Linked DNA regions of Homo sapiens: region 2 is linked to region 1. Evidence: fine-mapped expression QTL. A gene starts in region 1. The other region holds a variant in brackets. All regions are shown on one strand. Distances are between the middles of the regions. Region 1 holds the start of ANKRD10 (ankyrin repeat domain 10). Region 2 overlaps ANKRD10 (ankyrin repeat domain 10).

The links. PIP is the estimated chance that this variant, and not a neighbour inherited with it, causes the effect.
Region 2: its variant is fine-mapped to the expression of ANKRD10 in whole blood (INTERVAL, PIP 0.90).

What each region holds. Positions count from the first base shown.
Region 1 is chr13:110,913,193-110,917,581 of GRCh38, forward strand. ANKRD10 (ankyrin repeat domain 10) reads right to left here and starts at 1,877. Exons shown (of 6, transcript NM_017664.4): 1 at 1,533-1,877. The coding sequence starts at 1,742. RefSeq lists enhancers at 489-1,165, 889-1,018, 2,517-3,191 and silencers at 1,129-1,498, 1,769-2,428, 2,559-2,718.
Region 2 is chr13:110,889,867-110,894,255 of GRCh38, forward strand. ANKRD10 (ankyrin repeat domain 10) reads right to left here. Exons shown (of 6, transcript NM_017664.4): 4 at 3,162-3,397. Among named protein-coding and RNA genes, the nearest start is that of PRECSIT, 22 kb to the left of the region's middle. The variant C/G (reference allele first, on the strand shown) is at 2,629.

The sequences.
Region 1 (4,389 bases):
ACTGACTATCACCCAGTATTGTGTCGTTCTCAACCAGGGTAGAAAGGACAGAATCCTAAAGTTTAGTGTAAAAATAAACCACAGCAAGAGACACTCTGGAGGGAGGAAATCCTCAGATTACTGACTGCCTCGGGAAATCTATTTAAGGCTGCACGCAGAAGCGCAGGGAGGAGGCTTTATTACTTTTGTTTGTTAAGAAACTCATTTCCCCTGGGCACCTGTTTTCTCCAGCAGGTACTACGGTTGCACAACTTCAGAGACAGTGCCACAGGAACCTAACAGCCCTTGAGGACTGATTAACTTGCTTGTCCCACCCCGATCGTCAAAACTCCTTTTCATTTCTTTTATTGAAAGAAAAGTGACTTTTCCACTTTAAAAGAATCAGAAACTGCTTTCCAAAAGACACAGCTGCTTTGTGAATGTAGCACCAGGGGCAGCAAGGTAAACCGCAACTTCATCAGCTGGTAACGACATTACCAGGGCCAGGCCTTCTTAAAGTAACTTATTTCACATTACCTCTCACATATTTCTGCAAAACCATTTAACCCCATCTCATCACTTACGAGAAAAACACTATACACATCCCTGAATTTCAGTGAATTAAGAAATATTAATTAAAACCAGTCACTTCTGAAATGCACGGTGAAATCTTATTTAAGATTTCTGAGAGCAAGTACCCCAACGACTTCACAGATGAGGAAACGGTAGCTATCCAACCTTTTAAAACCTTAAAGCAGCACTGTGTTCCCCCAGAATTTTCAGTTTAAGAAAAAAGAGGGGAACGTAAAGCCTCCACGGGAAGAGAATTCTGCTTAATTTAACCACTTCTGCAGTAATTTAGATCCAAGATAAACACAGCCGTCACTAATTTTGCTGAAGCGGGGCCAGCTACAAGCCTTAAAGCAAACCCAGAAGCTGGAGAGCCGGCCTCCATCCCACACAGCTGCCGGGGCCTTCCAGTCCCGCCGGGGCGCTTGCTCCTCGGCTGAGCTCGTCCGCAGCGCGGCCCTCGGCTACTGGCGAGGCTGTGCGGAACCAGAAGGTCGACCGCGCCCGGGCATTCCCCGCGCGCCTCTGACCCCAGCTCGGCTCCCCGGAAGCCGCCTGGGCGACTTCGCGGCCTAATACCCGGCTCTGCGAAATCGCTCGCGCCTCCGGCCCGGCCTGGAGGGCCCCGCACCATCCGCGCGCGCGCGCGCTCGCACAGGATCCGGCCAACAGGCGCCGGGACCCTTGGAGCCCGCCTTGTTAGAAACTTGCTACGCGCGCCGCCGCACATGCGCCCTAGGCCCCTCCGGACGCAGGCGCCACCGACCTCGCTTCCGCCCCGCGCCCCCCGGCTGCCCCGCCGCGACTCCGGGCCGCGAGCGCTGCCGCACAGGCGCCCTAGGCCCCTCGGGGCACAGGCGCCGTCGATCCCGCTTCCGCCCCGCGATCCCGGCACGCCCCACGTCCCCCGCACCTCAGACCCGCTTTCCCCGACTCCCACTGGACAGCCGGGGAAAATGGCGCCTTAAAGCGTTCGCACCCACCTTGCCGAAATGCGCGGCCCAGTGCACGGGCGTCCAGCCATAGAAGGAGTCCTCAGAGGCCAGGTGGGCGTGGGGTGTCTGCTGCAGCAGCGAGCAGAGCGTGGCCAGGTCCCCGTCGCGGCAGGCGCGGTGCAGCGGGAAACGGAGCGAGAGCAGCTCCTCGCTGGAGAAGCCCGCCTCTACGCCCGCGCCCGCTCCCGCCGCCGACATGGTCCGTCACCGGAGAGCGCGGGGCTCGCTGGCCTAGAGGACGCGTCGGGGAGGACTCGAGAAGCCGCCGCCGCAGCACAAAGGAACGAGACTAGCGCCGCGGTCGCGTCCCACAGGCTGCCGAGCGGAGCGCGCACAGAGGGGGCGGGGCGGGGCCTGGAGCGGCCGGGCTGGGGGCGGGGCCTGGCCCAGAGGACGCCTTGTGCAGCCGGGCAGGGGTCGGGGCCTGGAGCCGCGGACCTCTGGAGCCGCCGGGCAGGGGGCGGGGCTTGAGCCGGAGGCCGCCTGGAGCAGCCGGGCGGAGGGCGGGGCTTGGAGCTGCGGACGCCTGGAGCGGCCGGTAGGTGGCGGGGTCTAGCCTAGAGGATGCCTGGAGCAGCCGGGTAGGGAGCGGAGCCTGGACCAGAGGACGCCAGCAGCAGCCGATTAGGAGGCGGGGCATGGGGCTGTCGACGTCTGGAGCAGCCGGGCATTGGGCTTGGGCTAGAGGACGCCTGGGGCGGTGGGCGCCTGGAGTAGCCAGGCAGAGGGCGGGGCCTGGCTTGGGTCCACGCCTGGGGCGGCCGGGGGCGGGGCCTGGCTGGAATTGACGCGTGGAGCTCCGGTGGAGGGGGCGGGGCCTGGCTGGGCCGCTGCCTACAGCGGCTTCCGGGGCTTGGAGGTCACGGGGCTCGGAGGTCACGGGGCTCGGAGGTCACGGGGCTGGCTGTGTGGGGGGCTCAGGGGCGTAGAGTGGCCAAGCAGCGGTCTGAGCGGGTCCCGGGGCCTCCGGCGCGGTGGGTCTCGGCTGCGCCCCGGGTGCGGACCATGATGTTTCCAGCCTGGGAGCCGGTCCGGGCGGGGAATCCCGGCTGCCGGGGGCGCGGGTTGAGGCTCTGCGGGCCCGCGCCCAGAGCGGGTGGGAGTCACGGGTCTCCCGGAGGCCCAGTAGCGCGCGGTGAAGTTGTCCAGTAAAAATTTATGGAGCGCCTACGGGGAGCAGGGATTCTCGTTAAAATCTGGGAATCAGCAAGCCCTAGTTCCTTACAGAGCAGGACAGATTCCTCGGTTTTGTCCGAGGGACGCCTTCTTCGGAACCGAGTGCGGTGGGCTAGGACTATACGTTTGCAAGTTTAAGAGATAAGCGAGAAGACCAGACAGAGCAAACAATAAAAGGCTTTTTGTTGAGAACTGTATAAATGTAAGGGAGTACCAAATCCCCTATTTTGAATGACAGTATCACGGACTTTATTACATATGTAATTTTATTCTGATTATGAAAGCATCAGTAATTTCACTATTGAGGAATAACCACAATGTTTATGAATATTTCCTTTGCTTCTAAATATGCGGTCTTTTTAAATCATGTATTTTATTTCATTTGTATATATAGTTTTTCGCTGTGTAAACTTCCTTTTTGCAAAATTCTACGTCACAAATTGAACAAGGCAATTAGATGTCTAGGGAAGTACTGATGCACGAGAAAGCATATTGCAGCATTGGTTAATAAAACGAAAAAATAGAAACCTAAGATTTAACAAAGGGAAGTTGTTAACTAGTGGTGTAAACACTCAACACAGACATGTCTTCATACAGCAAACATTTGTTGAGTACAATGCTGAATGAAACACATTGAGAAACACTCTATAGTGGGGAAGTAGCAAATATTTCAATTCAGTGAGCAATTGCTAATGAATGGAAAATATGACACATAGAATCTATCTTCTCCCAGGGAGTTTGTAATCTGTTAGTGAAGCAGGAAAGAATAATCAAGCAATACTTTTTTGTTTGGACCAAAAGGGTGAGAATAGACTATAAACTCATTTCAGGTTTTGTTTACTCTAGAACGTAATCATTTTTCTTCTCACATGCCATGTTGATTTTAATCTAATCTCTTTAAAATATATCCCCCTGATTTCCATCTTTCTTAGGAGAGAGGTGTCCCATTTTGCGAAAGGACGTGAGTGTATCTTGTCCTCCATGTAATGAAAGGGAGGGATTACTTGCTAGGCTGCATTCTGGGAATGGTGAAACAGAGATGGTGGTAAGTCAAGGAATTTGTCCAAGGGCAAACTGCATGCCTGTGGCAGAGCTTAGAATAATATCCAGACCTAGGTTCCAACCCACTGTTAGATTTTTTTTAACTTTGGAATTTATTTTGCATAGAGTATTAAGGGCTAGGAAGATAAAATAGGTTATAGTGATAGGGTACTTCGTGTACGTCTTTCCTCACTTCAGATGACTGGGTTTTTTAAAGGATTATTTAGACTATATACATATTTATTTAGCTGTACAGGAGTAGACTGACATATATACGTGGTGATGGATCCCCAAGACAGATCCTGTAACTGTGGCAGGAGGATTGTGGATAGGATGGTGTCTACTGACTATTCCCAATGCCAGTGATCTAATTGGTTGGTCACCCAGATTTTGCTCAACTCTGATAATTGTCAGATGCATTCCAACTAGAACTACTCCATCTTAAATGGGGCTGGGTAAGATGAGGCTGAGACCTATTGGGCTGCATTCCCAGATAGTTAAGGCATTCTAAGTCACAGGATGAGATAGGAGGTCAGCACAAGATACAGGTCATGAAGACCTTGCTGATAAACAGGTTGCAGTAAAGAAGCCAGCTAAAACCCACCAAAACCAAGATGGTGACGAGAGT
Region 2 (4,389 bases), 23 kb before region 1:
TAAGTTTTATTGGTAAGATACAAGTTACGCAGCCAAGATATTATCCCTGGCACCTGTAACTTTTTTTGTTTTTAAAGCCAAACAAAACAAAAAACCCAGCTTAAACTCTTCTAAATATTTTTATATGTGAAGTTACTCAAAGTATTTTATATACATGTGTTAAATGAGGAAAAAAGAATTTATCATTTCTTTTACTCTGGCATGAGAACCAAAAACCTAATAAAATAATTCAGATTAAGCAAAACTTAAAACACACATTTAAACAAAATCAAAACAAGATGCCAGAAATTACAACGAAAACTAAAGCAACATATCTTTAATTCAAAACTAAAAAACTGGTCAGTTAATATGGAAATAATTATATATCTATTGAAACCAAGAACAATTTCATGTAGAACATTCAGGTAATTGGCAGAAAAAAAAATCCTGTTTTAATGACCAAGAATGACTCCCAATACCCGACATCAGCACTCTCAGTATGTAATGGTAAAAGGGGGGCAAAAAATCACCTTTTCCCATAGGGAAACGAGTGGTGGGAGTGCAGGTGAGCTAAAGATGCCCATCTATGCTCACACAGACACAAAAAAATATAAACACACTCTTGTGACGAGTGTGGCAAATCTAAGGACTGTCAACTACATAAAAGACAGAACCATCAGAAGTTCCAGGAAATTAGTAAAGTCATGGTCAGTATACAAATTAGGAAAACCAAGGATGAGCAGCTTTGAAGTAATGTGCATCTTGGCTGAAATATTTCAACTGTGATAATCACAGAAACATCAGTCATGTACTGTGTACCTGCAACAGTGGCTCAACCTGTTAGGTCTACGTATTACCTGCAACACTTAAGCAGAAGTGCCGGCTCCAACCATATTTTTGTCTAAATTAGCACCCTCGGGCTTGGGACCAGGAATGTATAGTTTGGGAAGGCTGCATGGTGAGTTTAATGTGCAAAATGTGAACTTCTAATCACTGGTCAACCAAAACAAATCCTCCTTCTAAAGGAAGAAAATAAAACCCCCAAAGTCAGCAGGACTCTTTAAACCAAATTTATGTAGTTAACGAGGATTAGGAAACAAGGAATCCTCAGAAATGCTTTTCAGGGTAATTAAGCAATGTGGTATTGGCCAATTCAACTGACCTTAGAAACTCTGAGACTAGTTTTACGAACTCTTCTAGGTGCATTTTGAGTCCAATTAGCATGTTAAGTGATCTCTTTTTAAAAATACTAAACAGAATTTAAGATTTATCAGCAATAAGAGAAAATGAAGCATAAATCATTTTTCAAGGACATTTAGACTATACAGTGACATACAGGGACAGACATGTACAATTCGTGCATGAGGGCATGAGGCCACTCTACAATACTAACCAGGCTTTAATTAAAGGAAATGACAAAGGATTTTTTTAAAAAGTGGATGCTCTTAAAAAGGCGTTGAAACTACATTAGAAAAAATATATTAAAACATGGTACAAATAAATGACAATGCTGAATACATCACCATTAAAAAAGACCATTTTGAATTTTATGCAGATCTTCATGTCATGCTTATGATTTTAGCATCTTTCCAGAAATGCTTAACTCATAAAAATCTTGAATTTGATAAAACTGTTAAGTTCATACATTACTATAAAAAGTCTTATCACAGGAATTTTTATGGTGACAAGATATAGTTGTGAAGTACATAATACTGACATTTTATCAACTTTATAGGGAAAAAATGTTTCACTTGGACACACTCATTAAATAAGGTAGAAAAGATGATGTTGGTTCATGAAATTTAACCAAAATCTCTAGATTTTTAAGTGATTAACTGATAGTCACTCAGTTTTCCTTATGCTGTAACTTGCACGGTTGATTTTTTTAAACCAACGGGCAAAACTTTGTGCTTATACTCAGCAAATCTGAGCTCATAATCTGCTTCATTACTTCACACTCCCACCTCTCCCCCTAAGTTCACTAAATATGCCTGCCAAGCTATCACATTTACCTTCTTATTAAGACTTTTTTTTTTTTTTTTTTTTAAATAGAGACAAGGTCTCACTATGTTGCCCAGGCTGGTCTCGAACTCCTGAGCTCAAGTAATCCTCCTGCCTCAGCCTCCCAAAGTGCTGGGATTACAGGTATGAGCCATGACAACTGGCCTAAGACATCTTATATATAGATATAGATGATTTTCCTATAGGAAAGGGAGATGTTTTCAACTTCAAGAGTGACTGGCTGACTGCTTATTTGCAAACTCAAACCTACCTTAAAAACAAAAAACAAAAAACCCAAAAAACGGCTAGGCACAGTGGCTCATGCCTGTAATCCCAGCACTTTGGGAGGCCGAGGCAGGTGGCTTACTGGAGGCCAGGAGTTCAAGACCAGCCTGGCCAACATGGTGAAGCCCCTTCTCTACTAAAAATACAAATTAGCCCAGTGTGATAGCATGCACCTGTAATCCCAGCTACTTGGGAGGCTGAGACAGGAGAATTGCTTTAACTTGGGAGCCGGAGGTTGCAGTGAGCCGAGATCACAGCATTGCACTCCAGCCTGGGTGACAGAGCAAAAAAAAAAAAAAAAAAAATGGTGGGAGAATACTTACAACGAAAATAACTTACCTTAGGGACTTAAATCCTCAAGAT[C/G]AAATTATACACCAGATCTTGCTGTGATAAGTCAACACACATGTGAGGTACAGAGACCACTGAGGTCAAATCATAGTACAGAAATAGTACAGAAAACATTCACCTTCCCGAATGTGAAAATGTTTTACTGCCAGACCATCAGCAATTTTTATAAGCCCAGGAACATTTACAAGAAGCAAATTAAAAAAAAAAAAAAATTCAGGCACAGTGGCAGATTTTCTTTAATAGATATATTTCAAACAGATACAACAAATTAAAAAATCTAATTCATGGCAGGTAAACATGGGTGCTCAAAAAGTTCCACATAGACATTTACACTTGGGCCATCAGTATTTCCCTCACATTCCCTTTTGTTAAGTCCCATCTTCGCAGTGGCAGTACAGGAGAAATCTCCACCGTCACCGCACAATCCACCAGGCGCATTACCACCTGAAGTGAAGGTCTCATCTCGAAGGTGCGCTCAGCCATAAAAAGAAAACATATTACAGAAAGGAAAAATAAGTGTGCTCTTCCCACCCGCAAAGCGGTCTCACCTTCAGTTCTAGCTTTCTTTACTCCAAAGTCTTCTGAGTCTTCCAAGCATCTCTTTCGATTTGTTCCCACACTAATATGATTAGGAAATACATTCTGATGACCCCCATTTAAGATGCCATTGTTATAGAAATGGTTCAGATGACAATTCTGGAGGTTCAAGAGAAACTGGGCACACTCTTGGAAACCCTGGGTTTGTGCAATGTCTGCTGCTGTCAGGCCACTGGCATTTCTCAGGCTGTACAACACAAAAACACTGAATTACACCCCATCCGCGTGCTAACCTGGTCTCTGCTCCTGCTGAACTGACTAGCTATCTGAAGGTGGTATGAAAGAGTAAACAAATTCATAGCAAATCTTCATTAAAGAAGTAGTTAATCAATCTAGCTCTGTAACTAACTTCTCTTATATACATTTGATTTCTAAGCAAGATTTGGGAGATAAACTAAATATGCTAAACTTCTAAAAAAGGCATCTTCCTATTTAACTTCTCAAAATCATGTTTTATGTTAGTCTGAAGAATCTAAATTTACGCTAACTTCAGACTTGAAACTGAATTCTATATTATATGCACTTAATTTTAATACCCATTCCTTTAGCGTGAATAAAATCATAACAAACAACATGTACTGAGATTGTCCATGGCATTCATAACTGTCTTCCTAAAAACAAAGCAATGGCTCACCAACGAGCCAGCCTTCATGCTTACATGTGACACTGTAAGTGGAAGTTTAGAAGGATGTCCTGACATTAAAAAGTAGCCTATCATCAGATTCCAGAGCTGAACAGCTGTGTTTTTCTGTCAGATTTTGATTGTTTTGGCCTTGCTTGGGAAAACCTGCAGGAGTATTGTATTTTTGGCATTGTAGAGCATTTGAGTAGTTGGTTCCTTTAAAAAGGCTTTGAATACTGTCCTAAAAACTCATCCCTACCACTCACAAGAACCAAAGTTTTACCTGGCTAATAGTACTAAAAAGGAAAGGTCTGAGACCTCTACAGTAGCTAAAACTCAGATTCAAGTAGGAAGTGATGGCAGAGTAAGTGAAAGAGCTGAATAAAATAGAGTAAGTTGAACTTGTAAACCTTTAGACACTGAATTAAAACTGAGGGATCAAAAGTAACTCCATGTTGAAGTTCCCCTGGAAGACAAGAATGTACACTGCTCTGTGAAATAAACCTGTAAAAAAGCAGACATCCTGTTAGCTGCAGGTTGATAAACAAACGGGAGAA